Linked DNA regions of Homo sapiens. The protein of the gene in region 1 purifies or fractionates together with the protein of each later gene. This does not show direct contact. Each region holds a gene or a part of one and is shown in the gene's direction. Other genes may lie near its edges. The genes, in order: OLFM4, ERF, P3H3 and ETV3.

Region 1 (7,022 bases):
AGGTGTCTTGTGAGGTACTCAGGGTCCTATTTGCCCTACAGAAGGGGAATCGCATATTCTTCCAAAGGCCAAGGGGACAAGCTCTTGTCTTTGTCTCCCATCCCCCATGCTTCATTCATGTAGAGTTTGGGCATTCACCGCAGAGAGAGACTCATCACCATTAGCTTCATTGTCTTTGAATGCGAGGAGCAGAAATATCTCTAATGGGAGACACTGATCAAACTTATGGACCATTTTGATGTCAGCTGAGCATGCTGGGCTGATGATAAGCAGGATGGAAGCTGGGGGAGTCCACAGCTTTGGGACAGAGATGTTCAATAGAAACCGATGGAATGGCTGACAGCAGGGCTCATAATTACTTGTCTGTCTTTCAAGTGAACTTCAGGACTAAAAGTTGTTAGCTAGTGGTTCCTAATTGACTGTCTAGAGATTGCTTGATGATATCCACTGTTTTCTGAGTTGGCAGAATTTTTCAGAGAACTCTGAGAATGGCCCAACCCTGTTTGTGCAGCTAATTAAACTCCCCTTGTTAAAATGCAATGCAAGATTTTTTTTTTGCTAGACTGTTATTATAATAAGCTATTTCTTCAAAAGTCCTTGATATGTCGGTCTTTTCTGTAAAAGCCTTGGCATGCTTGAGTTGGAGTCTTTCTATCTTTGGAGAAATGAGTAAAGCTGGTTTCAAGGGAAGCTGGCCTCTCTGATAGGTTCCTGGTGTATCTTACCGAGTCTTTATTCATCTCTGGCAAAGACCCTTCCCCTATTCAAACCCTGCTGTCCACCCCTATGTTCGACATAAATCTGCTTGTTTCTCCTCCCTACTCCTGAACTGTTTCCCACGTAGGGATGTGATTGGAAAAGAAAATTGAGACCAAGGTAATAAATTTTGACTAAACACATAAAAAATATGATTGGATACACACACATATTTTTTTTTTCTGCTCATCTTGAAACTTAAATTAAATTAAAAACAACTTAGATGCAAAAGCCTTGATTGGCCCCGAGGCCAGTGATAAAATAAGTCTTCATTATAGAAGCATCTAGACCCAGCTTGATCAGGCATTATGGAGGTTGGTGGCCATTAAATGCACAGGACCCATTACACCACCTGCAGCTGGCTGACCTGAACTTTGAGAGACATGGCCAGAGTCACTTCTGGCTCTGAAGACCATTGCTGTCTCCTTAGAGGTTTCATAAAAAGTCCCTTCAGGCTGATGTTCCACAGGTGAGCTTTGGGTTGGCTTTCAGATGAGATCATTAAAAGGCACAGCAAATTGGCTGCCAAGGGTTACTCTGTAAGGCAATAGTAGTAATAAAAAAATGTTAATTGTGCTGGGATCCTCTTGGGGAAGTTCAAAGGGGACAAAAGAAAAACAGGATCTTTCAAAAGTGTCATTTAAAAATATGCGGTGGCACTGAAGTGTGAGTCTGAATATCTTAAATGAACATAAAATATTTTAAAATGACTTTTTCTGCAAATGGTAAGCTGGAAAAAAACTTTTATTAAAAAAAATTGCACAAAACCTTCAAGCTCATACGCTATTCACTTTCTAACAAATGGCTGGTTCCCATTTTGAAGGATGTTAATTTGCAATTTCCCAGGCGATGAGAGGATATGAATTTGCATCATATATTTTCACTGTAGCCCACATCTTTGGTGATTCCCTCATTCTGATGAAAAGGAATTGGATTGGGTTGGGGTGAAGGTGAGGAAGAGAAAATGAGCAGTAGAAGGAAAGAGAATGTGACATTTTCAGATCACCTACTCTGTGCCAGGGACTTGGCTCACATTACTTCGTTAATACTGAGGACAACCCTGTGAAGTAGGTTATCTCTATTTTACAGATGAAGGAACTAAGAATTAAGGAGATTTCACATCTAGCAAGTGCTAGAATTGAAATTCAAACTTAGCACTCTCATAGCTTCTTTATTTCCCTTTCCTTGCATAGAGATAGGAATAATCTCCTTTAAGACTCCAGAATGGCCGGGCGCGGTGGCTCACGCCTGTAATCCCAGCACTTTGGGAGGCCGAGGTGGGTGGATCACGAGGTCAGGAGATCGAGACCACCCTGGCTAACACGGTGAAACTCCGTCTCTACTGAAAATACAAAAAATTAGCCAGGCGTGGTGGCGGGCTGTAGTCCCAGCTACTTGGGAGGCTGAGGCAGGAGCATAGAGTAAACCCGGGAGCCGGAGCTTGCAGTGAGCCGAGATCGCGCCACTGCACTCCAGCCTGGGCGACAGAGTGAGACTCCGTCTCAAAAAAAAAAAAAAAAAAAAAAAAAGCCTCGAGAATGGGGAATCTTCCTTTAGGTAAAGTCTGCTGGCGTAGTGGTTTTCGTACAACCAGTGGCGATGTGGCTAAACGCTGGGTGGTCCCCACCTGTGAAAACAAAGCTGTTTTAGCTTGTTTCTATGATTCTATTCATTTATGTATTGGACTCCACTTACTTGCCTGTAAGTACTCTCGACAAGCCAATTTCTGTCACTCCAGTTGCCAAAAGCTCAGATTCCAGCTTGTTATTGATGTTCAACTTGTTATTATTTGCAGTTGTTTTCCAATTTCACCGGCTCCGTGGATGACCGTGGGACCTGCCAGTGCTCTGTTTCCCTGCCAGACACCACCTTTCCCGTGGACAGAGTGGAACGCTTGGAATTCACAGCTCATGTTCTTTCTCAGAAGTTTGAGAAAGAACTTTCCAAAGTAAGCATTTTCTTTTCAAACAATATCTTGATAAAGAGAAACAAAACAAAATGTGTTTTAATTTAGGATTTTATAAGCAATCATTCTTCACTATCAAAGACATCACGTTTTTATTCTATGGTGATTTTAGTATTTATTTTATAGGACACCAATGGAGTTCTTATTAAGGCAGGGAAAATGAGAGCACAGGAAGAAAGTGGGGTTCAAATTGTTCACGCCGTGGATAAACTCACTATAGTATTGTGGTACTTAGGCAGTTGGAAAGAAGCCTTGAGCTCTCCTTGCAAACCCCAACCTGCAATTTTTATTTTGTTTTGACGCTGCTTCTTCCTTTTGGTCTTCTAGGTCTTTCCTCAAGCTTTGCTTTCTTTTCTTTCTTCTCCTCTATCCCCTTTAGTTCTATTCTATCTCCCTTCTCTTTTTCCTTTTCTTCTATTTCTATTCCATTCCTGCATCCTTTAGTTTCTTATTTCTCTTGCCTCAATCCTTGCCCTTATTCATCCCTTCTAATCTCTCTTTTCCTTTCCTGGTTAATTCTTTTTTGGGGGGGACATTTTTGGGTATTTTCTTACTTTTAGATGATCTTTTTTTCCCTCCTTCTTTTCCCTTCCTCCACTTCCACTCCTTCAAATCCTCTCCCTCTCATCCTCCTCCCTCCCTCTCTCTTTCCTTTAACCCTTTTTTATCTTTACAAATTGCTCACTTCCTTCTCTCTCCCCCTCACTCTCTTTTTTTGTGACAATAAGTTGTAGTCTCTTTTATTTTTTTCTATTTTCTCCAAGTGAAATCCAAGGTTGTAGTCTCTTTATTTTTAATCTTATTTTTTTTTGGTGTATAGTAGGTGTATGTATTAATGGGGTACATGAGATACCCTGAGACAGGCATGCAATGCGTAATAATCACATCATGGAAAATGGAGTGTCCATCCCCTCAAGCATTTATCTTTTGTGTTACAAACCATCCAATTAGACTCTTTTACTTATTTTAAAATGTACAATGAAATTATTATGGACTATAGTCACCCTGTTGTGCTGTTGAATACTAGGTCTTATTTATTCTTTCTAACTACTTTTATTTTTTACCCTTTAACTATCCCCACTTCCATCCTCACCCTCCATCTCTTTCTTGATGGTTATCTTCTATTGTCTCAGCAGGAACATTACATTTGATGTGTCCAATATTAGACAAAAATTGAAGGCTTCCCTGGGAATTTGAATCAAGACTAATAGGTTTCTCAGCCTTGGTAAAAACACTGACTTGAACTCTGATTACTGTTTTTTTCTTTAGCCAGAGGAAGTTATCTTAAAGGGTTTGCCTTTCTCTGGGCTGGCTGGAGCAATGTGACTTGGTGTTCTAGTTTTGACTCCTTCCACCTTTTCAGCCCAAGTTAAAAATCAATTAGAAAAGTTCCTATTTTCTGCACAGGTGAAGTCCAAGCTAGTCTATAATCACATTATGCATTATTTAATACAACTCCATTAATTTACAAGGAGCTCTGGCTTTACTGCAAGATTCAGAATAAGTTTTCCTAAGAAATTTGAGCTTTGCCACCTCAACATCCAACATAGTTATCCTTTAAAACAAAAATTATGATGAGGCTGAGACCCTACTTTCAGCCTGAATTGGTAGATAAATATTCTAAGTTTAAATGAGTGTCCAGGAAAATGTGTTTGACTACTCTAGAAACCTAGCTGCTTAAGAAATATAATGTCCTTGAATTAATCAGTGGAAAAGGCACAGCATTAAATTATAAATTCTAACCATTAATATTCATAGCCTTATTCCAGCATAATCAAGTACAGATAAGAAGTTATGCATAAAAACATAACAAGTAGAGGAAAATCCTAGGTAAAGATCTTTTCAGTTAGAGTCATTTGCTTTGAAATAGTGGAAACTACTGATTTACATGTTGTCTTTGCTGGCAGCAGTGTGAAAGGCAGTTTGAAACCTTATGTGCTCCAGGGAGAGTATGTGGCTTGCCAGGTTTGTGAATATGGGACATTTAATTCCAATACTGTACGGGGGGCTGGTAACATCTGCTTTGCTAATGACAGATAGGGAAGAAGTGCAGAATAGGTGGGAAAGTTTTAGTTCTGAATGTGTCGGTGGCTGCTCTGATCCCAAAAAAACTGTGATTGTGGCCTAAGAAAAAAGTTTATCTGCTAGCTAGGATTTATATAATCGATTTAGTGTGACAGGTGATAATAACAACAATAATAGTAGCAGTTTGTTTGTGCTTTTTCAAATGCTTCCAGTTCTATTCTCTCCTCTCAAGTAACCCTTTAAGGCAGATAGGCCAGGTGTTGTCTCTCCCATTTTAGAGACAGTAAAACTGCAGTTCATAAAGGTAAGGAGACTTGCCCAAGGTCATTCCTCTCTTGGCTGGTTAAGCCAGGTCAGAATTCGAGTCTTCAAAATCATCTCAACTCTCTTTCCTCTTGGCCATGCTGTTAGCATCCTCCAAGGTAGGCCCAGGAAGAGATGCAGTAGTAATGCCTTCAAATCCAAAGTTATCCCTTTAGCTGAGGGCTTTCGAATTTCCAAGTGAGTTATTACAGCTGTCCCTAGGTTGCCTTGAAAATTGTCATTTATCCGGGGGCCTGGGAGAATGCCCGTTTAGGACAGGCCAGTAGAAAAGGTTTTTGACTGCCTTACATTGATTCATTGTCTGTCAGTACACAGAGAAGACAGGGAGCTGCCTCTGCATAAGATGCTGAAAGCATTTTATACTTTTCTGTTGTTTACGGTATGTCCTTTTGTGACTATACTTAGGAAAGGGATGGCACAAAAGGCAGCTCAGGATTTTCTCTTTCTCTGGAGGCTTATGGTCTTTGGCATGAGTTATTTAATATGACACATTTGCTAGTAGATCCTCATGCACGGGAAGGTTGAGGCAGCCTAGGAGACATTAAGGCAACCCATAAAGAAATAACATTGATTGAGCCGTATTTGTATAGTGAAATATAATAAATTAAAAGGTCAGATTGGAAAATGCTGAAATTACTGTTTCTCTATTAATTTCTATAATTCATAGGGCCTCCATTAACTAGGCACTTAACGTACATTATCTCTAGTCTTTATGATAATCTTGTAAGCTCAGTATCATTACCCCCAGTTTACAGGAAACTAAGGGTTAAAGAAATTAAGTGATTTGCCCACTAAGTACTGAAGTTAGATTTGAGTCTAGTTGGGTCTAGCTCCAAAGTACTTTATATGTCTTTACAATCACTCCAGGCTCAATGAACCCTGTTACGTTTACTTTGAAACATATATTGAAAATAGTAGTATGTTGCAAAGTAAACGTACTTATTTCAAATAGTCTGGCCATAGTTATAATCACAGGTTTTGAGAGACTGGCAGAAACATGAACCAGATTAATTCTTTAGCTTGCTAGCACTACACCCTTATTTATTACAAGACCACATTAATTATAAGGAACAATAACAGGCACCCTCAAATCAACGCTCACACAAATTTTATTCCTCATCAATGATATAGTATGTGCATAACAAGCAAAATAAAATGGAAGCTGTGAATGTTAGGCTGGTGGCTTAAAGGCTCAACTAAAACATAGATGAGCCATCTAGTGCTCAGACTTGTCATGATGAGGAGCTTCGAGATAAAGATGTTGACACAGGACGTGTCTCCTCAAGGCTAGACCCATATTCTTGATAGAATGTTTAGCAGCGTCCCTGGTCTTTAGATGCCAATAGCACTCGCCCACCCCCCAGTTATGAGAACCAGGACAAAATCACCACCACTACCGCCCTCCCTCCATTTAGAACCACTTTTCTAGATCAAAATACAGCCATAGGTCAGCTAAAGACAGGGACATGTTCTGATAAATGCATCGTTAGGTGATTTTAACATTGGTGAACGTCATTGTATACTTACACAAACCTAGAGGGTGTAGCCAACTACACACTCAGGCTATATGATATAGCCTATTGCCAGGCTACAAACCTGTACAGCCTGTGACTGTACTGAATAATGTAGGCAATTATAATACAATGGTAAGTTTTTGTGTGTGCATATATATCTAAACATAGAAAAGGTACAGTAAAAATATGATATTTATAATCTCATGGGACCACTGTCATATATGCAGTCTGTCATAGACAAAAATGTTATGCAGCAAATGACTGTATTTTCCAGAAGAAGAAAAAAATGCAGAAAGTGCCCCAAGTGCCAGATGTGGGACTGGAGGCTCCCAGGCAGGCTGGGCTGCCTCTCCCAAGACTGCACCTCCCAGGAGGAGCTGACATGTGGTCAGCATTGTCCACGCATTCCCAAAGCTACAGATTCATATATGTGAAAA
Region 2 (7,834 bases), on another chromosome or scaffold:
AGCCTGGCCAACATGGAGAAACCCCATCTCTACTAAAAACACAAAATTAGCCGGGCGTGGTGGCGCAAGCCTGTAATCTAGGCTACTCGGGAGGCTGAGGCAGGAGAATTGCTTGAACCTGGGAGGAAGAGGTTGCAGTGAGCTGAGATCCTGCCACTGCACTGCATCCTGGGTGACACAGGGAGACTCCATCTCAAATAAATAAAAAAAAAAATAAATAAATTTTTTGTAGAGAGAGTCTCACTCTGTTGCCCAGGCTGGTCTTGAACTCCTGGCCTCTTGAAATTCTCCTGCTTCGGCCTCCCAAAGTGCTGGGATTACATGTGTCAGACACAAACTGCAGCCAGCCTGTTTATTGCTGTTTACTCTAACTGTTGTTACAGTTGGAGTCTGTAGGGTAGAGTGCTCTTGTTATCCATGGGGCATAGAGTTCACTCTGCTAATAATTATTAACAGTATTTATTGCATACTTACTTTGCATCTCTGATTTTTCTTTTTTTCTTTTTTTTTTTTTTTTAAGACGGAGTATCGCCCTGTCACTCAGGCTGGAGTGCAATGGCATGATCTCGGCTCACTGCAACCTCCGCCTCCCGGGTTCAAATGATTCTCCTGCCTTAGCCTCCTGAGTAGCTAGGATTACAGGCGCCAGCCACCACGCCCAGCTAATTTTTGTATTTTTAATAGAGACGGGTTTTCACCATGTTGGCCAGGATGGTCTGGAACTCCTGACCTCAGGTGATCCACCTGCCTCGGCCTCACAAAGTGCTGGGATTACAGGTGTGAGCCACCTCGCCTGGCCACATCTCTGATTTTTCACAATAACTTGATCATGTAGGATCTATTAACACCTCCATTTTACAAATGAGGAAAATTGAGGCTCAAAGAGGTGAACTTGGCCAGGCGCAGTGGCTCACGCCTGTAATCCCAGCACTTTGGGAGGCCAAGGAGGGCGGATCACGAGGTCAGGAGATCGAGACCATTCTGGCTAACACGGTGAAATCCCGTCTCTACTAAAAATACACAAAATTAGCTGGGCGTGATGGCGGGTGCCTGTAGTCCCAGCTACTCGGGAGGCTGAGGCAGGAGAATGGCGTGAACCCGGGAGGCGGAGCTTACAGTGAGCCGAGATAGCGCCACTGCAGTCTGGCCTGGGCGAAAGAGCGAGACTCCATCTCAAAAAAAAAAAAAAAAAAAAAGAGGTGAACTTCGCTAGGCAGGGTGACTCACACCTGTAATTCCAGCACTCTGGGAGGCCAAGGTGGGCGGATCGTTTGAGCCCAGGAGTTGGAGACTATCCTGGTCAACACAGAGAGACCCCAACTCCACTAAAAATAAAAAAAAATTAGCTGGGTTGGCTGGGCATGGTGGCTCACGCCTGTAATCCCAGCACTTTGGGATGCTGAGGCGGGTGGATCATCTGAGGTCAGGAGTTCAAAACCAGCCTGACCAACATGGAAAAACCCCGTCTCTACTAAAAATACAAATTAGCTGGGCGTGGTGGCGCATGCCTGTAATCCTAGCTACTCGGGAGGCTGAGGCAGGAGAATTGCTTGAACCCAGGAGACGGAGGTTGCGATGTGCCAAGATGGTGTCACTGCACTCCAGCCTGGGCAAGGAGAGCAAAACTGCGTCTCAAAAAAAAAAAAAAAAAAAAAAAGCTGGGCATGGTGGTGGGCGCTTGTAATTCCAGCTACTCAGGAGGCTGAGACAGGAAAATTGCTTGAACCAGGGAGGCAGAGGTTGCAGTGGGCCAAGATCGTGCCATTGCACTTACAGCCTGGGTGACAAGAGCAAAATTCCATCTCAAAAAAAAAAAAAAGTAACTGGGCATGGTGGCATGTGTCTGTAGTCCCAGCTACTCAGGAGGCTGAAGTGGGAGAATTGCTTGAGGCAGGGAAGTCGAGGCTGTAGTGAGCCATTATTGTGCCACTGCAATCCAGCCTGGGCAACACAGTGAGACCCCCATCTCAAAAAAAAAAAAAAAAAAAAAAAGAGGTGAACTGAGTTCACTTGCCTTGTCAGAGACAAGAAGTAGCAAAGGTTGGGTGTAACAGCCAGGTGTGGTGGCTCACACATGTAATCCCAGCACTTTGGGAGGCTGAGGCTGGCGGATCACGAGGTCAGAAGATTGAGACCATCCTGGCTAACACGGTGAAACCCTGTCTCTACTAAAAATACAAAAGATTAGCCGGGCGTGGTGGGGGGCGCCTGTAGTCCCAGCTACTCAGTAGGCTGAGGCAGGAGAATGGCGTGAACCCGGGAGGCGGAGCTTGCAGTGAGCCGAGATGGGGCCACTGCACTCCACCCTGGACGACAGAGTGAGACTCCGTCTCAAAAAAAAAAAAAAAAGGTTGGGTGTAACTCATCTCTGTCTTGCTGGTGGGAGGGTAGGGGTCACTGGGTTTGTTACTGATGTGTTATCTTTTTGTTTGTTTGTTTGTTTTGAAACTGAGTTTCGCTCTTGTTGCCCAGGCTGGAGTGCAATGGCGCGATCTCAGCTCACCGCAACCAACCCCCTCCCGGGTTCAAGCGATTCTACCTTAGCCTCCCGAGCAGCTGGGATTACAGACATGCACCACCAAGCCCGGCTAATTTTTTGTATTTTTAGTAGGGACGGGGTTTCTCCATGTTGGTCAGGCTGGTCTCGAACTACAGACCTCAGGTGATCCACCTGCCTCGGCCTCCCAAAGTGCTGGGATTACAGGCGTGAGCTACCGCGCCCAGCCTTTTTATTTATTTATTTTTAGACGGAGTTTTGCTGTTACCCAGGGTGGAGTGCAGCGGAGCGATCTCGGCTCACTACAGCCTCCGCCTCCTGGATTCAAGCGATCCTCCTGGGTTCAAGCGATTCTCCTGCCTCAGCCTCCTGAGTAGCCGGGATTACAGGTGCGCCACCACGCCTGGCAAATTTCTGTACTTTTAGTAGAGATGGGGTTTCACCATGTTGGCCAGGCTGGTCTGGAACTTCTGACCTGAAGTGATCTCCCGCCTCGGCTCCCAAAGTGCTAGGTTTACAGGCGTGCGCCACTGCGCCGGGCCCTGATGTAGTATCTTTGAAAATCTGCATTTTTTTTTTTTTGGAGGGGGTAGTAAAAGAGGTAATAAAGCATAATGGTAAAGGGTAAATGTGGTGGTTTGGAATTGGTTAGATCTGGGTTCGAATCTTAGTTCCAATACTTCCTGGCTGTAAGATTTAGTGGACTGATTTTCCCTCAGAGAGCATCACTTTCTTTATCTGTAAATGGGGATAACAGCAGTAATTCCCCTCGTTGGGATTTTGTGAGGATTAAATGAGAAGATGCCCCTGACAATGCTTGGCCCGGTGCCTGGCACATCATGAACACTCGGAATTCGGGAGCTGTTATTCGAACAATGAAGATGATTATTATTGCTGGACCACACCGCTCCCAGAGGGTTACAATATCCGTGGGGGAGCTGTACTGTCCGTAGGCAAGGTTACATAATTCCCGGGGGTTGTGGGGGAAAGCTTCCCTGGAGCCCTTGGTCTCCCCAAGGAGGAGGCCTGAGACTTTTTTTTTTAGGCACTGGTGAGGAGCCTGTCTAAGGTGGACTAGGTACCCCGCAAGCGAGGAGGCTGGGATTGAAGCCCTGGGTACCGGGAGCCTGAGCTCCGCAGGCCTTCCCTATCTGTGACTTTTCTGTCTCCCCGCCCATCTTCTGGATTCGTCCCCCACCCAGCCCCCCCAACTCCCGCCCGCCACCCATACGCCCCTCCTTCGGAACCTCAGAGTCTTTTTTGAGACTCTGTTTCCAGGCTATGCCTGTGAATATTGCTTCTATTTGGCCTCTACCCTGCTGCCGGCTCCTGGGCTCCATCAGATCTGCGCTGTGATTTCCTGTTTCCCAGAGCCTCAGGCTTCATCCTTCCCTCCCGGCTGAGGCAGAGAACGGAGACTTAACACTTCTCTACGCTCTGGCTTTCGATCTTAAGCCCTGTCTTCCTCTCTCCTGGCGACCCTCAGTGCCCCTTGGGAGCACATTTGTTCAGACTTTGGTCGCCCCCTCGTATCCCGGCCCCGCCTCCGGAACCCCCGGTCCTAGTAGTGGACGTGGGGGGACCTCCGGCGCCAGCCCTATCCCCGGGACAGCTGCAGCCTGGGGACGGTGGTGGTGGGGGCTTCCAAATGCATTCTCTCTGGTCACTTCCTCCCCAGCTGGACGGGGGTTATCAGGGAAGCCAAGACCCCATCCCCACAGGAGCGGAGGGCACAGCCGCCTCCCCATTTCCGATGCTGGGAAATGCATCCCACCCATTCCACCCCACCCCTGGACAGCTGCCCCCATTCAGGCTCAGGGTTGGGGGGTTGGGTAAAACCAAGCTGGGAAATGCTGTGGTCTTCATCATCTTCTAAGGTCCTGACCCCGCCCCTCTGCAGAGAAGATTCTGCCCCCTCCCCACAAAAGTTTCTGACCCCCGCTTCCTCGGAAGGGCCCCCCGTTTTCCCATACAGGCTCCCAAAAGAAACTCTGGAGCCCGCAGTGGGCAGGAGAGGAGGAGGGGCAGCAGGTAGCGAGTGCCGAAGACTTAAGTTAGCTGCAGACTCGGAGCCTCTGACTAGGGTCATGACCCGCGGGACCCCATCCCACCCCCACCCCCTCCTTCCTCCCTCCCCCGCCGCGCGGCCCCTTTAAGCCCAGAGCCGGCCGGTCCTCAGTGGCTGCGCGCCGACGAGCGTGTGTGTGAGTGCGCGGGGAGGGGGCGGGCGCAGTGTCTCCATGGCGACGCGGCGGTGACGTCGCCGGCCGGGGGGCGTGGGCGTCCCGGCCCCGGAGTGCGATATTAACCCGGGAGGCGGCGGCGGGGAGGGGAGAGGCTCTGAGAGGCGAGGCCGGGTGAGGCGGCGAGGGCGGCCCGACGGGCGCGGGACGGGACGGGGCAGCGAGGGCGCCGGGAGCCGCGGCCCGGAATCGGGGCGCTTCGCCCCGGGCCCCCCAGCATGAAGACCCCGGCGGACACAGGTGGGGGCGGGGGCAGCACGTGTGGGGGAGACTTGTTGCCCCGGGAAACCGAACGGAGAAACTTTGGGGGGGCTGAAGGGGTCCGGGGGAGCCCGAGTGATCCCCAGTTCTGGGGGACCCCTCAAGCACTGGAGACCTGTTGCTTCTCGTGGCGCGAGCGGGGTTGCTGCCTGGGACCCCCGATTCCTGGCTCCGGGCGGAGTGGTGTGGGTGCTGCGGGTCTTGGTCCTGTATCCCTACCGGGACCCCGCAGGCCGGGCTCTCCCCCACTCCCGGGATCACGGGGGTGGCGGGGTCCTTCCCCTCCGCTCTTGTCACGTTGCACTCTGGGGGCCGGGACGTGTGCGGGGCGGGGGGGCTCGTCCACCGGGCCCGCTATCCCTGGTTCTGCGCTGCGCGGTCCTGCTGGTGACCTTCACGGCGGCGCGTGCCCTGCACCAGGTTAGCGGGGGATACGGGATGGCCTCTAGGAGGAGGGCGTGAGTGGGGAGCCCGGGACTCGGGGTCCTGGCTGCGCCGCCCCTCCCCCGCCCGCCTCTGTCGGCTCCTCGCTCCCCCGCCCTCGCCGAGTCGCAAAGTTCCAAAGCGCAGCCCGAACGTTCGAAAAAGGAACTTTTTGTTTCCGACCTTAGAACGCGCGGCTTTAAGGTGGCTCCGGGGAGACCTGGGTACCCTCCTCCCGCGCCACCGGTGGCCCGGGGTTGAGGAGGGTGGGGAAGGTGGGGGGAGACGCAGAGGCTCCCCCCTCGCCCCCCCTCCCGGATCCACCTCTTCTCTTTCAGCGGGCCGTCTCTTCCCTCCGCCCCTCTCTTCCCCGCCAACTTGCTCCTCCTTAAGGGGCCAAGGTTCCCCTCCCCCTCGGTCGGCGGGCGGGGGGCAGCGGGATTAACTCCCCCTCCCACTCGGACTTTTCCCCCTCCCCTCCCCCGCCGCCCCCGGGCTCGCGCGGGCTGGACTTTGCGCCCGAGCGCGCAGGGGGAGGGGTCCCAGCCGCCCCCTGCCCGTCTACCCCGTCGGAATCCGGCCCGGGGCGGGGACGGGGGAGGGGGAAGGGGGCCGGGCGCCGCTGTTCAAACTTGTTTCCTTCCCCCGGCGGCGGCGGCGGCGGCGGCGGCGGCTCGGGCTCCTGTGTGCGGGTGTGTGCCCCGACCGGCCCACCCACCCCACCCCATCCCCACCCCATTCCCACCCCATTCCCATCCCCATCCCCCTGCTCGGCGGGTGGGGGCGGCTTAATCTTAAAGGGCTCCGAGCTGGGATCCGGCGCCAGGGGATTGGGACCCGGACCGAGGAGGGGCCCTGGGGGTGGGGCCGGGGTGCGGAGTGCGGTAGGGTCAGTCACGTGCGTCCTACACACTCCCCCGGCTTCCACTCGCTCCCGGGTGGCTGGGCCCTGGGGGCAGCAGGAGCCTACCCTCGCCCAAGGAGGAGGCCGAGGCACCCAGACAACCTCGCTTCATCTTCTCTCCCTGCTACCGGCCTTGGCCTGATAGGATCCGCGGGTCGCTTCCCCAACCCTGTCGGGGGGCGGGACAGTGTGTGGGTTTTCCGGCTGGGGGAGGGGAGGGGAAGGAGGCCTGGAATGGCCTCCGATCGGTGCATCTTTCCCGTCTGCCTCCTGGCCTGCCGCTCCGCACCCCTCCATCCAGTTCTCCATCCCGGTCCCTCTCTCTGCCGTGGCTGTTTCCCACTTCCTGTTTTCTTCCCGGCTCTGGCGCCATAGAGGGCCGCCTGGAGTGGGGGAGGTGGTGGGGCCCCCCAGGAGGCCGGCGTGTTCTTCCTCTGCCACCACTCCTCCCTTCCGACCCTCATAGTCCCTTAAAAAAAGTTTGGGCCGTCACGTGAGGTTGGGGGGTGCCCAGGAGTTTTGTCCCCCCAGGCTTGCATAGTCTGTCTGGGAGAATCCCTACCCCGCCTCTGTGGGACCCAGGTGTGCTTCTGGGACCTCGCCATCCCAGCCCTTGCTGTCTGACTGCTGCCACTTCTGCACTCTGTCTCGCAGTCTCCTGAACCCCTCTCTCCATGTGCCTGCTCTCTCCCTGCCTCACTGGCCCCCATGTTCCCGAGGTCCCGCACCCCCAAGCTTCCTCCGTGCAGGTCTGGTGTTTCCCTGTTTTAAGCACGTGGACGCATACACAGCACACTCACACATGCTCCCCTTGCCCGTGCCTGGCTCCTGGCTCCAAGGCCTGGGGAACAGAGCCCCATTGAGACACCCTGACGTCACCCCCTCTTCATTCTCCCCCCCCCAAAGCCGGGAACAGGCCTTCATGTATGCTGTGTCCGATGAGGAAAGCCGCCGTTGTGGTGGGCTTGGGAGTGGGGAAGGGTCCCTGCCAGAAGTGGGAGCCAGGGTCCAGGCCCTGGAGGAGGGGTTGCTCAGGGAAGGGGTTTAACAAGGGGGCCTGGGACAGCTCCCAGAATGCGGCTTGAGGCCTTTCCAGAGCCCCCCCACCTCCTTTCCGAGTTCCCTTTGTGTTGCATGTAGTCTCTCTCACTCCCTCTCTTCTGCAAAGTTTATTTTTAGCCTCCTGCTCCCCCGCTCCCAGGACTGTCGCTGCACACACGTTGCCTGGTTACCGGGACACGGAGGCTGGGGCGGGTGGGCTGGGAAGGGTGGCTTTAATTTTGGGGGGAGGGTGGAAGTCAGTACATCCCCCACCCCCAGATTGATGTCTCAGGGGCTTTGGCCCCCCTTCTAGGTCTAGAGCCAGATTGGGGCTGAGGTGGAAGTAACATGGAGCTTGGTTCCCTGAGAGGGGCTGGGAGCTTTTTGGAGGGGATATGAGGGTCCATGAAGCTGGTGGCTGGGTCACCTGGGTTCCAAAGGACCCTGGGCCTTGCAGGAGACCTT
Region 3 (7,022 bases), on another chromosome or scaffold:
TAGACCTGAGAAGTAACCTGGACCCCCACCCCCCGCTGGCCTCTTACCCGAGCACTCTAGTCACCCAAAGGACTCCAAGTCCAGCATCTGACTTCCGTCTCCACTCCCTGCTCCCCACGGCAGCCTGGAGTTCCGATTCCAGCCCTCAGCCCCGTCTCTCTTGCCTTTACTTCACTCCTGCCTGCCACCAGCCCCCAAACTCATGCATACACACACCCACACACTCACACACACTCCCACCCCCTACACCCTTTCCAGTTTAAGTCCAGATGCTCTGAAGCTGCTGAGGGGGAACGTTGAACAGAGGAACCGGGGGGCATGGTGCCAGGTTCAAGGAGCATGGAGCACCCAGGCAGTGCCCTAGAGCCGGCGCTTCCCTGCCTTCCTCCAGCTACCCCTCACTGCTCATCATCTCACCCTCAGGACATCCAGCGCTTCATCCTCCGATCCCTGGGGGAGAAGAGGCAGCTCTACTATGCCATGGAGCACCTGGGGACCAGCTTCAAGGATCCTGTGAGTCACTCCACTTCTGCCCATCTCACCCCTCCGCACTCCCAGGAGGGATGGCACTTTGGTTTGCAACAGAGTTTTCCATTTTTCCACCATGAGGCTTGGAGAAGAGTCTGCCATCCCAGTTTTACAGGGACGGAGACAGTGTGCCTGTAGTTAGGGCGGCTTTGGGGTCACGCAGGCCTAAATGTCAGTCCTCCTCTGCCCCAAACATCTCTGAACTTCAACTTGCCTCTGCCTCAATTTCCTTACCTGTAAGTTGGAATAATCACATCTGTTTCACAGGGCTGTTGAAACCACATCATTTGATAACAAAATATAGAAAGCTCTGTTACTGCTGCTTTTATTTCTCTTCTTGTAGTTATGAGAGGAAACTGCGGGGCGGAGGTTATCTATGGCTAGGACTAGGGCATCAAGCAGGCGTTCTCAGTCTTCCTGGCGCTACTGATATTTTGGATCTGACATTTTGGATAATTCTTTGTTGGGGCAGAGGGCAGGGCCTGTCCTATGCCTTGGAGGGTGTTCAGCAGCTTCCCTGGTCTCTACCCAGTAGAGATCAATAGCACATTGACAGCCCCTGAGTCATGGCAATCAATGTTTCCACACTTTGCCTAATGACCCCTGGGGGCAGAAGTGTCCTGCTTGAGAACGACTGGCTAAATGTGTGAACTCTGAAGCTAGTTTTTTTTATTTTTATTTTTATTTTTGGAGACAGAGTCTCACTCTGTCACCCAGGCTGGAGGGCAATGGTGCGATCTTGGCTCACTGCAACCTCCACCTCCCAGGTTCAAGCGATTCTTCTGCCTCAGCCTCCTGAGTAGCTGGGATTACAGGTGCCCGCCATCTTGCCTGGCTAATTTTTGTATTTTTAGTAGAGATGGGGTTTCACCATGTTGGCCAGGCTGGTCTTGAACTCCTGACTTCAGGTGATCCACCCGCCTCGGACCCCCAAAGATGCTGGGATTACAGGCGTGAGCCACCGGAACCCGGCCTGCAGCTAGTTTAAAACCTAACGCTGCTTTGGGAGGCCGAGGCAGGTGGATCACCAGATCAGGAGTTCAAGACCAGCCTGGCCAACATAGTGAAACCCTGTCTCTACTAAAAATACAAAAAATTAGCTGGGCGTGGTGGCGGGCGCCTATAATCCCAGCTACCTGGGATGCTGAGGCAGGAGAATCGCTTGAACCCAGGAGGCGGAGGTTGCAGTGAGCTGAGATCGCGCCATAGCACTCCAGCCTGGGCGACAGTGTGAGACTCCGTCTCAAAAAAACAAAAAACAAAAAACAACAACAAAAAACAACTAACCCTGTCATTTGTAGCTGTGTGATCTTGAGCATGTTACTTTACTTCTCTGTGTCTCAGGGCTCTCAATTACAAAATGAGCACTTTAATATTCTGTTTCATGAGACTGTTGTGAACTTTAAAGGATAAATTCCATTTCCATGAATAAAGCTCTTAGAATAGCCCCTAGCAGATAGTAAGTGCTATATGAGTTATAGTTGTACTTGTTGTTACAGTTTGATCCACTGCCCAGGGCTCCTGACATTGAGTCCCGGGCTTTTCCTACCTCCGTCTTCCTCTCTGGAAACAGAAGAAACTTAATGAGATATTTCAGCTCTAATGTCAGGGATTCCAGGGGCTGACCTTGGTGGGTGATGATGCTTTTCTGGACTGTCGCAGGACCCCTGGACCCCTGCAGCTCTCATCCCTGAGGCACTTAGAGAAAAGCTCAGGTAGGATATGCCCCATGGTGGGAGGGGCTTGGCCCGAGCTGGGAGGCTGGGTCTGGACTGTCCTGGGCACCCACTGAGCGCATCTCTCACCCCTGAGAGAGGATCAAGAGAAGAGGCCTTGGGACCATGAGCCCGTGAAGCCAAAGCCCTTGACCTACTGGAAGGGTGAGTTCCTGGGAGGGAGAAGGCAGGAGCCTGGAGGGTCTGGGGGCTGCCAGCTACTGCTCTGCCTGCCCTTAGGGGATGCTCAGCCCCCTCTGCTCTGTCTTTTCCCTGGCAGATGTCCTTCTCCTGGAGGGTGTGACCTTGACCCAGGATTCCAGGCAGCTGAATGGGTCGGAGCGGGCGGTGTTGGATGGGCTGCTCACCCCAGCCGAGTGTGGGGTGCTGCTGCAGCTGGCTAAGGTAGGAAGACCTGCAAGCTCATCAGCTCGTTCAAGACTCTTGGATACAATCACCTGTTCCCTTGCTCTTGGCCTGCCCCCTTCATTCTGCCTGTCCTGATTATCCAACCGGGACTGTGCTTACCACTGCCTCTCAGCTGTGGATAAGTTCCGTCTCGTCTTAATTTAGCTGACATAGGTGGATGTTCTTTACAAATGAATTTTGCTAGAAATTGATAGGAAGAACAAAACAAAAAACATGAAGGCATAAAAATGGATGAGTGTGCAGGTAAGGATTGCTTGGTTAGCCAAGAGTTTAGTTACTGGCTTGGCTGATGGCTCAGCAGACACGCAGGCCTTTCTTTCCCTCCTAGTTTAGGTTGAATGACTCATACTCACCAGGTTGAGGCTACCATTTTATGAAGCTTCAACCCTTATCTTAGGTTAGTGCTCATTCAGTAATATACTCACTGAGTAGCTGCTATACACTAGAAACTGCTAGGTTCTAGGGAGAGGAAGATGATTATAGACTCTGCCCTTTGGGAGCTCAAGTGTAGAGGTGGAAACAGACAAGGAAATACATAATATAAGCAGGTGGTAAGTTTGGTAAAAGAAGTATGTTTTTGGGCTGGGTATGGTGGCTCATGCCTGTAATCCCAGCAATTTGGGAGGCCGAGGTGGGTGGATCACCTGAGGCTGGGAGTTCGAGACCAGCCTGACCAACATGGAGAAACCCTGTCTCTAATAAAAATACAAAAAAGTTAGCCAGGCGTGGTGGCACATGCCTGTAATCCCAGGTACTCGGGAGGCTGAGGCAGGAGAAGCGCCTGAACCCGGGAGGCGGAGGTTGTGGTGAGCTGATCTCGTGCCATTGCACTCCAGCGTGGGCAACAAGAGCGAAACTCCATCTCAAAAAAAAAAAAAAAAAGTATGTCAAATAGAAGCACTGAAATGCAGTTATAGAAGGCTTGCTGGAGAGGTGGTATTTGAGCTCAGTCTTAAGGATGAGTTAGTCAGGCGATTGGGGGTGGAATCAGTCTAAGAGGGAGAAGAGCATGGTGCATTCTGGGAACTGCAGTCAAGCACAGGGGTGAGAGCAGGGCCAGCTCCATAGTCATTACCTGTGTGATCTTGGGCAATTTATTTTAACATCTCTGAGCCTAATTTGCTCATCTATAAAATGAGGATAATAATAGTGTTTTTGTCATAGTGTCGTTGTGAGGATTAAATGAGTTAGCACATGATAAAGCTCTTAGAACACAGAATCATCACTGGCTGGGTGTGGTGGCTCATGCCTGTAATCCCAGCACTTTAGGAGGTCAAGGCAGGTGGATCACTTGAGGTCAGGAGTTCAAGACCAGCCTGGCCAACATGGTGAAACCCGGTCTTTACTAAAAATACAAAAAAATTAGTGGGCATTGTGGCAGGTGCCAGTAATCCCAACTACTGGGGAGGCTGAGGCAGGAGAATCGCTTGGACCCAGGAGGCGGAGGTCGCAGTGAGCCGAGATCGCACCATTGCAGTCCAGCCTGGGCAACAAGATCAAAACTCCGCCTCGAAAAATAAATTTTTTTAAATAATTAATTAATTAATTAATTAATTAAAAAAGAACATAGAATCATCAGGGTGTATGTTACCAAGAGACAGTATAGGGAAAGAGGGAGAGAGCCCACACATGAAGGCCGAGGGACAGTGAGTGTCTTCTGTGGCCTCCCAAGGAGTTTGGGCTTTATCTGTGTATGGTAGACAGCTGTTGCAGGATTTTAGGACGGTTGACTTTTGCATTCCTGTAGTACCTGGAATCAGGTGCAGGGTCTGGAGTCACCTGTAGGAGTGGTAGAGCCCTCTAGTGGCAGTCTGTAGAATGCAGTGGGAGAAAGACCCGGAAAAGGGGAGTAATTGACGAATGCCACCGTTGGCTGGCGAGGTGGCTCACACCTGTAATCCCAGCACTTTGGGAGGCTGAGGCAGGCGAATGGCTTGAGCCCAGGAGTTCCAGGCCAGCCTGAGCAACGTGGTAAAACCCCGTCTCTACAAAAATACAAAAAATTAGCTGGGCCTATGCGCCTATATGTTCCCACCTACTTGGGAGGCTGAGGTGGGAGGACCTCTGGAGCCTGGGAGGTGGAGATTGCAGTGAGCTATGATGGCGCCACTGCACTCCAGCCTGGGCGATAGAGCAAGACCCCGTCTCAAAAACAAAAAATGAAAAAAAAAAAAAACCCCAGGTTAGACGGCTTGGGTGACTAGGTGTCTCTCAGAAGTGAGATTTGTATGCAGGCGTAACTAGATAGTGGTGCTTAAACAAATTCAAAAAGTAGACAAAAAACGGGTGTCAGAAAAGCGAATAATTCCAGTGTAGACATCCAGATATTAGGAGACCCCCAGGTAGTGAGAGTGGTCGCGGAGGTGGCTGGGTAGTTGTGACTCAGTATCAAGGAGTGGGGGAGCCACGGAGTCCACAGTTTCTCCGAGAGCATGTCAGGTGGGAAGAGGTCAGAGAGGGATAGCCCGCTGATGCTGTCTCCCTACCGCCAGTCTGGCCTAACTGTGGAACTTCCTCTTAGGGTCCTGTTTCCAGAGGGACTCCTCTATTCTTGGCTCATCGGGGATTAATGATCAAGCCCTTCCTGCCTAGTTCCCAGCTCTGCCCCACTTTTCCAGCTGTCCCTACCCTCTCAGAGGCCCCCTTACTGCTGTAGGAAGCTCTCCCGAGTTCTCTCCACAGTCCCCTTAGTAAGCGGGATTCCAGCCCGTACCAGAGAGGGACAATCGGACAGCCGTGGCGGTGGGCACTCTCTGGGAAAGAGCAGCAGCTCAGGAAGACGAGCCACAACAGAACTGTGGGAGCATCTAGCTTCTTCTGGAGAGCGGGAGGGCCGGAGGGAGGGTCTTGCAGCCCTGCAGACAGTGAGGGGCTGGGGGAGTGACTCCACGGTAAACTCCTTCCTATTTAGGATGCAGCTGGGGCTGGAGCCAGGTCTGGCTATCGTGGTCGCCGCTCCCCTCACACCCCCCATGAACGCTTCGAGGGGCTCACGGTGCTTAAGGCTGCGCAGGTGAGCACAGGAGGCACCCGGGCCCGTCTGATGCCCAGACCTGGAGGAGAGGCTGTGCAGGAAGCCGGGCCCCAGGGCCTGGGCTTTTGTGAAGGAGCTTTCTTGGGACCGAGACTACCTGATAGGACCCAGCGTGGAGAAAAGGGATGTTCTGAGAGCTGGGGCCGGGGTTGTTGTCATGGAGAGAGAAGGAGCAGTTTGGGCTGATGGACAGAGCTGGATGCTGACAGACTCCAAACCCATGGGTGGAGAGCGGCAGAGTTGGGCAGGGGCTAGGGCCGAGACCACCCTCCCCTTGCCTTCCTCCTTTTCTGCCCTGCCTTTCACTGCCTGCAGCTGGCCCGGGCTGGGACAGTGGGCAGTCAGGGTGCTAAGCTGCTTCTGGAGGTGAGCGAGCGGGTGCGGACCTTGACCCAGGCCTACTTCTCCCCGGAACGGCCCCTGCATCTGTCCTTCACCCACCTGGTGTGCCGCAGCGCCATAGAAGGTACGACAGGGACCCCCCACTGCTCTTCTCCAACCTCAGGCCCTGCCCCCAGGACACTGCCCCCAAGAGCCCCGGGGTGGACGTGCACGGCCTGAGCCCACAGGGTGGCAGATGGGCACAGGGGCACAGAGGTACCCCCAGACCCCTTTGTGTCCTAGGAGAGCAAGAGCAGCGCATGGACCTGAGTCACCCAGTGCACGCAGACAACTGCGTCCTGGACCCTGACACGGGAGAGTGCTGGCGGGAGCCCCCAGCCTACACCTATCGGGACTACAGGTGGGCAGCCCCTCTAGTGGTCAGGCAGGTGGGCAGACAAAGGTCATCCCACTGCCGGCCTGGGCCTGGGTTGGGGTCTCACTGCCTCTTGCTTTTTTCCCTCCCCAGCGGACTCCTCTACCTCAACGATGACTTCCAGGGTGGGGACCTGTTCTTCACGGAGCCCAACGCCCTCACTGTCACGGTGCGTGGAGTGGGGGGTGTGACGGTGTGACAAAGGGCCCAGCTGTGGGGTCAGGATTCAAAACAGAAGGCTCCAGAGGCAAATGCAGGGAAATGGCCAGGGCTTTTAACCCTTTCACTTCCCCGCCTCCGCAGCCCTCCCGCTGCTTCCTCCGTAGCAAGGTCTCTAAGTGGCCGAATCAACCCTACCATCAGTATTTGTCTCGCCTCCTAAAGAAGGGTGAATGAAGCACAGCTTGCAGGTGCCTCCAGGACTCCATGGCCCTATTCTAGGGATTTGGGGAACTTGAAATAGTCCTTCCTCTTTGCAGCGAGGTGAGCACAGTGGCTGGCGCACAGATACCAGGGCCGCCTTGACTGGGGCTCGGATTCTGAACCTTTCTGAGGTTTA
Region 4 (7,022 bases), on another chromosome or scaffold:
AGGGTATCAGGTAATAAAAGACTACACTATCTTAGTGAATAATGTGTCACTTTAAAGTGGGAGTAGAAGAGCTGTTGAATGTGAGTAGCATAGGCACAGGAGGAGAAAAGGCATATCTTTGGTTATACGTAGGAGGGGATTCCAATGTGGCTGGCACTGGATCCTGACAGACAGCTGATTCTGCTCTGTAGTGGGCGAGAGTATATGGTGAAACATGGATTGGAGTTCATTTATAATCCAAAGGATTAGTTTAGACTTCTCTATTAGAATCTGTTAGAATTTCTTTCTTTGGGCTTCCCTGAAAGAAACTTAGAAAAGGATGAAGCAAGTCACGGGAGGAAGATTCAGTGATACTGACCTATCTATTCCGGAACTGTGTCTGTGAGCTCAGGTTGTCCATAGCCTGCTGCAATATGTCTAAAGATTGATCACTATAAGTTTTCTCAGGTTCTTTTTTCCCCTTGTCGGTCTTACATTTCATAGTCCTTTAGCCCTCAAGGGGCTAGAAGGCAGTTTATGACCTCTGCTACTGCATAGATGTAAGACTAAAGGTTCCAGATAATTGAAGTTCTCCTGACCTGAAATGTAAACTCTGTACAGTGGCTTTGCTGTATTCTTTCACATCCCTTTGAGTCTTTGAAGGTGAGGCGGGCCACACTAGCTGCTGTTTTCCAGATCAGGGCATGCCATTGTTTGACCTGCCACCATAAAACAGTTGTACATTCCTTTGTCTGTCTTTTGAGCTTAGGCCTCCAGACTAACCACATCAGGTCTCCCTAGTGATTTGTCTGCCCCCACCTGGGCAAGACCAAAAAGAAAAACTAAGCAGTTAGTGACATGCAGTGCAACCGGACGGAAATGGACTGTAGAATCGAAATTGTAGAGAGATGGAGAAGAAAATGTTTGGGGCTAGGATAAGTGTTCAGAATCTTAAAGTGAAGTTGTCTTTGTAAACCTCTAGGCAAAAACGAGCTGAGTTGAAAATTGAGTAAGAAAATTAAGCTGTTAGGTCTCCTAGATCTACCTGGAGGGCCAGGCTGCGAAAGATTGGTAGTGATTTTTGTAAGTAATACTCAGAGCAAGAATTGTTGGTCTCAGTGGCTACCTAAGTGTATTGAAAGCTGTCAGTAGCTACAAGACGAATGGACATGTATTCCTGTTTTTACAGATACTATTACAACAAGAGGATCCTTCATAAAACAAAAGGGAAAAGATTTACCTATAAATTTAACTTCAACAAGCTGGTGATGCCCAACTACCCATTCATCAACATTCGGTCAAGTGGTAAGATACAAACTCTTTTGGTAGGGAATTAATTTTGAATTGAAAAGAATTTTTAAAAATCCAAATCTAAGACATGGCATGTTTAGGAAGATTTTAGAAACACTAAAATAATGTGATCCTTTGGATTGCCTCAATGTTCTTACTCAAGTCATCTCACTTATAAGGAGAGTTATAGGCTATTCAGTATCAAGATAGATTTCTTTGGTTTATTTGGTTGGTTCCCTTTTCTGCATATTGTTTGTAATCTCCTAGATACTATTACGCTATCTTGTTTGGGAATGATGTTTCATAGGTTTGTGATGATCTTTACGTTCAGGACTCAGTTTTAACACCCAGCCCAGTGGTTCTTTCATAGATGGGAACCTGTTTCTACAAACACTTCCGATTTTCTGTGAAACTACCAAGCTCTCCCTTATCAAGTGAATATCATCAAAACCACAGCATCCTTGATCAGAGAAGGGGGAGGTTCACATGTTTGCAGTGAAAAGCAGTGTCTTTGATCTGCAACAGCAAATCCTCAGAGAAAAAGATTCTGGGGTTACTTGACCTTCTCTCCTGTTAAGTGCAGTAGGGCTTCCCCTCTTGACTTTCCTGGTTATAGCTTTCCATCACAGCTCCCCACATTCTCTCTTGATGTTGAAAGCAGTCTCTCAAAAGACTTTGTTGTTGTGTGGTTTTTTGTTTGTGATTTTTTTCCTTATGCAAATCATACTCCTGCCCAAGAAAATACAGTAGTTCCCCTTATCTGAGCAGTATATGTTCTAAGACCCCTAGTAGATTCGCAAACCACAGATAGTACCAAACTCCATTCATATATATGATGTTTTTTCTTCCCTTAACCCCACTCATATGTATCTGTGATAACGTTTAATTTATAAATTAGGCACAGTAAGAGATTAATGACAATAATAAAATAGAAAAATTATAACAATATGCTGTAATAAACTTAATGTGGTCTTTCTCAAAATATCTTTGTGTACTGTACAGACCTATTTTCAGACCTTTGTGGGTAACTAAAACAGTGGAAAGCAAAACCTCAGATAAGAAAGGACTACTGTAGATTGTATTTAACTGTTTTCTGACCAGTCCATCAGTAAGTACTCTGTCATTGTGGCCTTGTATGCTAAGGCAAAGAATGCTGATCATGCAGTAATACAACTTCTCAGAAAAGCTGGAAGAAACCTGAAAAATTAGTGGGGGTGTGGTTGAGAGAACATAATGTTGAGATCCATTGCAGATATGTAATTACTACACAACAAGTTAGGGCAGTTTTAGCTTGACTCTGCTATCATTACAGTTTCATCTCAACTTCTGTAACCACTCCCTCCTGTCCCTGGGGCATGCATTTAAAAAAAAAAAAAAAAGTGGTATTGGAATGCATCTCTCTAATTACAACCTGTTTTCTTTCCTTGTGCCTGAGGGAGAGGCGTTAGGAAATCAGACCTGTACTCGCCACTCAAATCTTGCTTCCTCTGTTTCTCACTCTTGCCCCTTCCTTGTATGCCTAGAGGAATTGGGAATCTAGATGTATATACCAACAATTTTAAAGAATTTGTTGGTTTTCATACCCCTTCACCCCACTCCCAAAAAAATGTTTCATTCGTCTTGTTCTTCTGTCTTTGACCCATTTTTATCTATTGAAAATCCAGAACTTCAGCCACTTGGACAACCTAGAATGGGGCATTCATAAGCCCTGGGAAGTAATGTGGTTTTCCAGGGCAAGGAAACCTGGATCCTCACTCTGTGAAGAATCTGATCTAGAAACCTAACAATAGTGGCCCAGCACACCTGTTCTGCCCGAAGGCGATTGAACCAACATTGATCTTTAACCCAAGCTCAAGATCCTAATCAAAAAGCCACAAGGGGCCGGGCCAGGTGGCTCATGCCTATAATCCCAACACTTTGGGAGGCCAAGGCCGGCAGATCACTTGAGGTCAGGAGTTCAAGACCAGCCTGGCCAACATGGGGAAACCCCCATGTCTACTAAAAGTACAGGTGGCAGTCACCTGTAGTCCTAGCTACTCAGGAGGCCAAGGCAGGAGAATCACTTGAACCTGGGAGGCAGAGGTCGCAGTGAGCTGAGATCATGCCACTACACTCCAGCCTGGGCGACAGCGAGACTCAGTCTCAATAAAGCACAAGGAAAGCAAAACTGTGTACATTTCTTTTAGTACATCTATCTCTACTACCTGGTTGCTCACATCCTAGGTATAGACAACTGCAAAGAACTGGTGTCATTAGTTTTTAAAGAACTTTTGACCAGAGAGGCCAAATGTTGTTTAAGGTAACTTTATGATAACAAAGGAATGTAACATTTATTGAACATCTGCTTTATGGAGGTACTTTTGCTTAGTAGTTTTGTGAATTACGTTATTCAACTTTTCAGCCCAGTGAAGTGAATGTCTTGATATCCACATTTTACAAATGATAAAATTAGGAAAACGACAGCAAAGTTAAAGACTGATCAGGGTAGGTTGAATAGTTATCTATTGAACAGTTTCTAGGGAAACAATTCCTGAGAGATCGAGCTGTTGAAGTCTAGCCCTTATTTAATAGATCATACATTCCTCCTCTAGGTTGTGATTCATTTGTTCAACAGATAATGGGAGTTCTTTACCTCACGGAACTTACAGTTTAGCAGGAGAGATAAGATATGCCGGGTTTAATACAATGTGAAATGTGATAAGTACTCTAAATAGAGCTGTGTGGATTTAGATCCTGGAGGCCATTGAGATCATGTCCACAAGGTGGGTTGAGACAGTTGGGGTATTCTGGTCTGTGTATTTTATCATGAAAAGCATCCTGTATAACACATTATTAAAATATTTTCTTATATTTGCATAAGAAACATTGGAAAGATACAGAAGATACTGTCAGGATGGGGCAGGACAGACCAGTTCAGGGATGGACTTGATACCGCTCAGTCTATGCCTCTCTACTCCCACCAACCCCAGTTTTTTAATTTTTATTTGGGAAAACTCGAAACCTACAGGAATACTGGAAGAAGGACAGTAAACACCCATATATCCTTTATCTAGATTCACTAATGGTTAATATTGTAGCCACATTTGCTTTATCTCTTTCTATTTATATATACTTTTTAAATCTTTTGAGATTAAGTTGCAGACATCATGACATTTCGTCCCTGTGTACTTCAGCTTGTATTTCCCAGGAACAAGGACATTCTCCTCCATAACCACAATAACATTACCACACCCAGGATGTTTAACATTGATATAATTCTGTTATCTAATACATAGTCCGTATTCGAATGACAGTTGTCTTTTTAGGGTTTAAATTTTGTACCATGATTAATAAAAAAATTATTTAACAATGACATGCAATTTGCTATGCTTGGTACTATTCTAAGGGCTTTACAAATATTAACTGTTAATCGTCATAACAATAGGCCCTGTGCTGACCTATTTTACAGGTAAGGAAACTGAGGCACAGAGAGGCAAGCTGTCCAGAGGCACATAACTAGTAAGTGGTAGGACCAAGATTGGAACCTAGGCAAGGACCTTATGAATTCCATTTTGCCAGAGGGGGTCAAAGATTCCAGTGTGCTACTTGTACTAGGCTACAAGGTGGAAGCTGCCAGAACTGAGATTCAGACCCAGTTTTTTCAACCCCAGTACTTGAATTTCATGGTGACTTCATGGAGGTGGACTTCTAAAGCAATGGTATTCAAACTTTCTTTTTTAGCAGCAAACTTTTTTTCTAAGCAAAATCTTAGGTTTGATATCTCAACATATAAAAGTAGGGCTACTTCAGTTAATCAGAGATAAGGGTTCCAGAATGCTAGAAGCAATGCTTCCCAGTATTGCTTCTAGTCTCACCTCCCATTACTCCACCTAAATACATCAGGAAAATACTGCTTATTATGTCTCCTTTACAGTATACCTTAACGTATGTAAAGACTGAGATATCCTCCAGTTTATTTTTCTTTTTTAATAAAAAACTAGATTTTGGGCCGGCACAGTGGCTCACGCCTGTAATCCCAGCACTTTGGGAGGCGGAGGTGGGCGGATCACGAGGTCAGGTGTTCAAGACCAGCCTGACCAATATGGTGAAACCCTGTCTCTACTAAAAATACAAAAATCAGCCAGTCATGGTGGTGCGCACCTGTAGTCCCAGCTACTTGAGAGGCTGAGGCAGAAGAATTGCTTGAACCTGGGAGGCGGAGGTTGCAGTGAGCTGAGATGGTGCCACTGCACTCCAGCCTGGGCGACAGCAAGATTCTGTCTCCAAAAAAAAAACAAAACAAAACTAGATTTAACCAAGCATTTCTAAGTTGCTTAGGAGACAAGACCTTTCCCTGCACATTATACTTCCTTCTTCTGAATACATAGAAGTGGCTTTTTGCTTTTGAGTAGATGTACTCTTAATTGAAAGTCAAGATCCAAAAGAATCAAAAAGGGTAGAATTGTAGCCACTGTAATAAGCTAGTAGAAGAATACATTTGGCCTGGGACCCTCTTGGCTCTACTCAAATCATTTGCAAGGTCATCCATCTGTTCTTCCTAATTTTAAAATTAAATCAGTGGCTTTATTTTTTTTCCAGTCTGTGATTTTGTTTTTAATTATCTTAAGTCTTATAATCATGCATAATTTTTAAATTTGTTTATATTTCCTCTACTTAATTCCTTTTAAATTGGCAAAAGCACCATTTCCAATCACAAATACACAGCAGTTCTACAGTGTTATGTTTCTGAATGGCTGTTTAGAGGCAATCCCAAATTATAACTTAGTCTGAATTAGATGGTAAAGAATTCAAGAGTGAAGTTTAACTTGCTACTATTTTTAAAGCATCTGATCCTATAGATCACCTATAAAATGTGAGAAGTGTTAAATCTTTATTTGATATTACACATAAACCCACTAAAATGCCTTTCAATAAGTAAAAGAAATCACTTTAGATACAGATTTCTAATTAAATTGGCTATTATTGTTAAAACCAAAAATATAAAGTAGACATTGCTGCCTTATCTTCAGCCCTTGCCTTTAAGAGGCAAATGAACATAAAACACTGGTGAATCTTGCTTGGTTCTAAGACAGTGAAGGACTTTCCCCAGTATTTAAATATATTCACATAACTAGTTATGTAAATCTAAATATAAAACCATTCTCCATTAAGTTTTAAGATGGCATTCATCATCTTTGTGAAAAGTTGAACATTACTAATGAAGTCCAGTCATATATTTAGAAGGGGTAAACAGTGATAGATAGCATTTACTAAATCGGAATTACCGTTAAAATTCCAAAAGCCAAACATATTCATCTAATCTCAAGTCAGTCTTAATTAAATCAGGACTGCCCAACAAAAATCTGTCAGTCATTCATGATCTGGATTCTGGTTTATGAGATCTGTTAAATTATGGTACACATAAAAAAGTCATGAGGCATTTCTGTTTTGCAATAAATAAGGCAGTGTCCAATTATTATCCATTAGTAGCTTTTTTGAGATAATCTATCAAGTCTGCCCTTTTCTGCCTTAATGTCGGCAAAGATCATTTTTGTTCCAAGGATGTACTTCTTGGGATTCTCCAAATACTCCATCGGTATCCTCTCCCCAGGTAATGCCTTTGTTCTTATTGGCATCTGTGTAAGAGAATCCAGTGGCCTGACCTGTCTTCCACCCAAAGAGACATGGAGATTAGGCCCAGTCTCGTGCTTGCCTCCCTTTTCCACAGTGTGGCACTGGGCACACTTCTGAACACAAATCTTCTTGCCTTTCTC

Evidence for each region.
Region 2: the proteins of OLFM4 (region 1) and ERF purify together in Homo sapiens (affinity purification with mass spectrometry; 3 studies listed by BioGRID and IntAct, with this or other methods). This does not show direct contact.
Region 3: the proteins of OLFM4 (region 1) and P3H3 purify together in Homo sapiens (affinity purification with mass spectrometry; 3 studies listed by BioGRID and IntAct, with this or other methods). This does not show direct contact.
Region 4: the proteins of OLFM4 (region 1) and ETV3 purify together in Homo sapiens (affinity purification with mass spectrometry; 3 studies listed by BioGRID and IntAct, with this or other methods). This does not show direct contact.

Annotation. Positions count from the first base shown.
Region 1 is NC_000013.11:53,031,797-53,038,818, forward strand, and holds part of OLFM4 (olfactomedin-4 precursor), read left to right. Parts: intron 1-2,551; coding exon 2,552-2,704; intron 2,705-7,022. UniProt on the Homo sapiens protein: May promote proliferation of pancreatic cancer cells by favoring the transition from the S to G2/M phase. In myeloid leukemic cell lines, inhibits cell growth and induces cell differentiation and apoptosis.
Region 2 is NC_000019.10:42,252,124-42,259,957, reverse strand, and holds the start of ERF (ETS domain-containing transcription factor ERF), read left to right. Parts: upstream 1-4,829; 5' UTR 4,830-4,958; coding exon 4,959-4,980; intron 4,981-5,322; exon of another isoform or gene 5,323-5,421; intron 5,422-6,058; exon of another isoform or gene 6,059-6,116; intron 6,117-7,834. UniProt on the Homo sapiens protein: Potent transcriptional repressor that binds to the H1 element of the Ets2 promoter. May regulate other genes involved in cellular proliferation.
Region 3 is NC_000012.12:6,831,402-6,838,423, forward strand, and holds part of P3H3 (prolyl 3-hydroxylase 3 precursor), read left to right. Parts: intron 1-423; coding exon 424-513; intron 514-2,190; coding exon 2,191-2,243; intron 2,244-2,340; coding exon 2,341-2,408; intron 2,409-2,523; coding exon 2,524-2,648; intron 2,649-5,583; coding exon 5,584-5,685; intron 5,686-6,021; coding exon 6,022-6,172; intron 6,173-6,330; coding exon 6,331-6,448; intron 6,449-6,556; coding exon 6,557-6,632; intron 6,633-7,022. UniProt on the Homo sapiens protein: Part of a complex composed of PLOD1, P3H3 and P3H4 that catalyzes hydroxylation of lysine residues in collagen alpha chains and is required for normal assembly and cross-linkling of collagen fibrils.
Region 4 is NC_000001.11:157,128,374-157,135,395, reverse strand, and holds part of ETV3 (ETS translocation variant 3), read left to right. Parts: intron 1-1,168; coding exon 1,169-1,284; coding exon of another isoform or gene 1,285-1,316; exon of another isoform or gene 1,317-2,251; intron 2,252-6,724; exon of another isoform or gene 6,725-7,022. UniProt on the Homo sapiens protein: Transcriptional repressor that contribute to growth arrest during terminal macrophage differentiation by repressing target genes involved in Ras-dependent proliferation. Represses MMP1 promoter activity.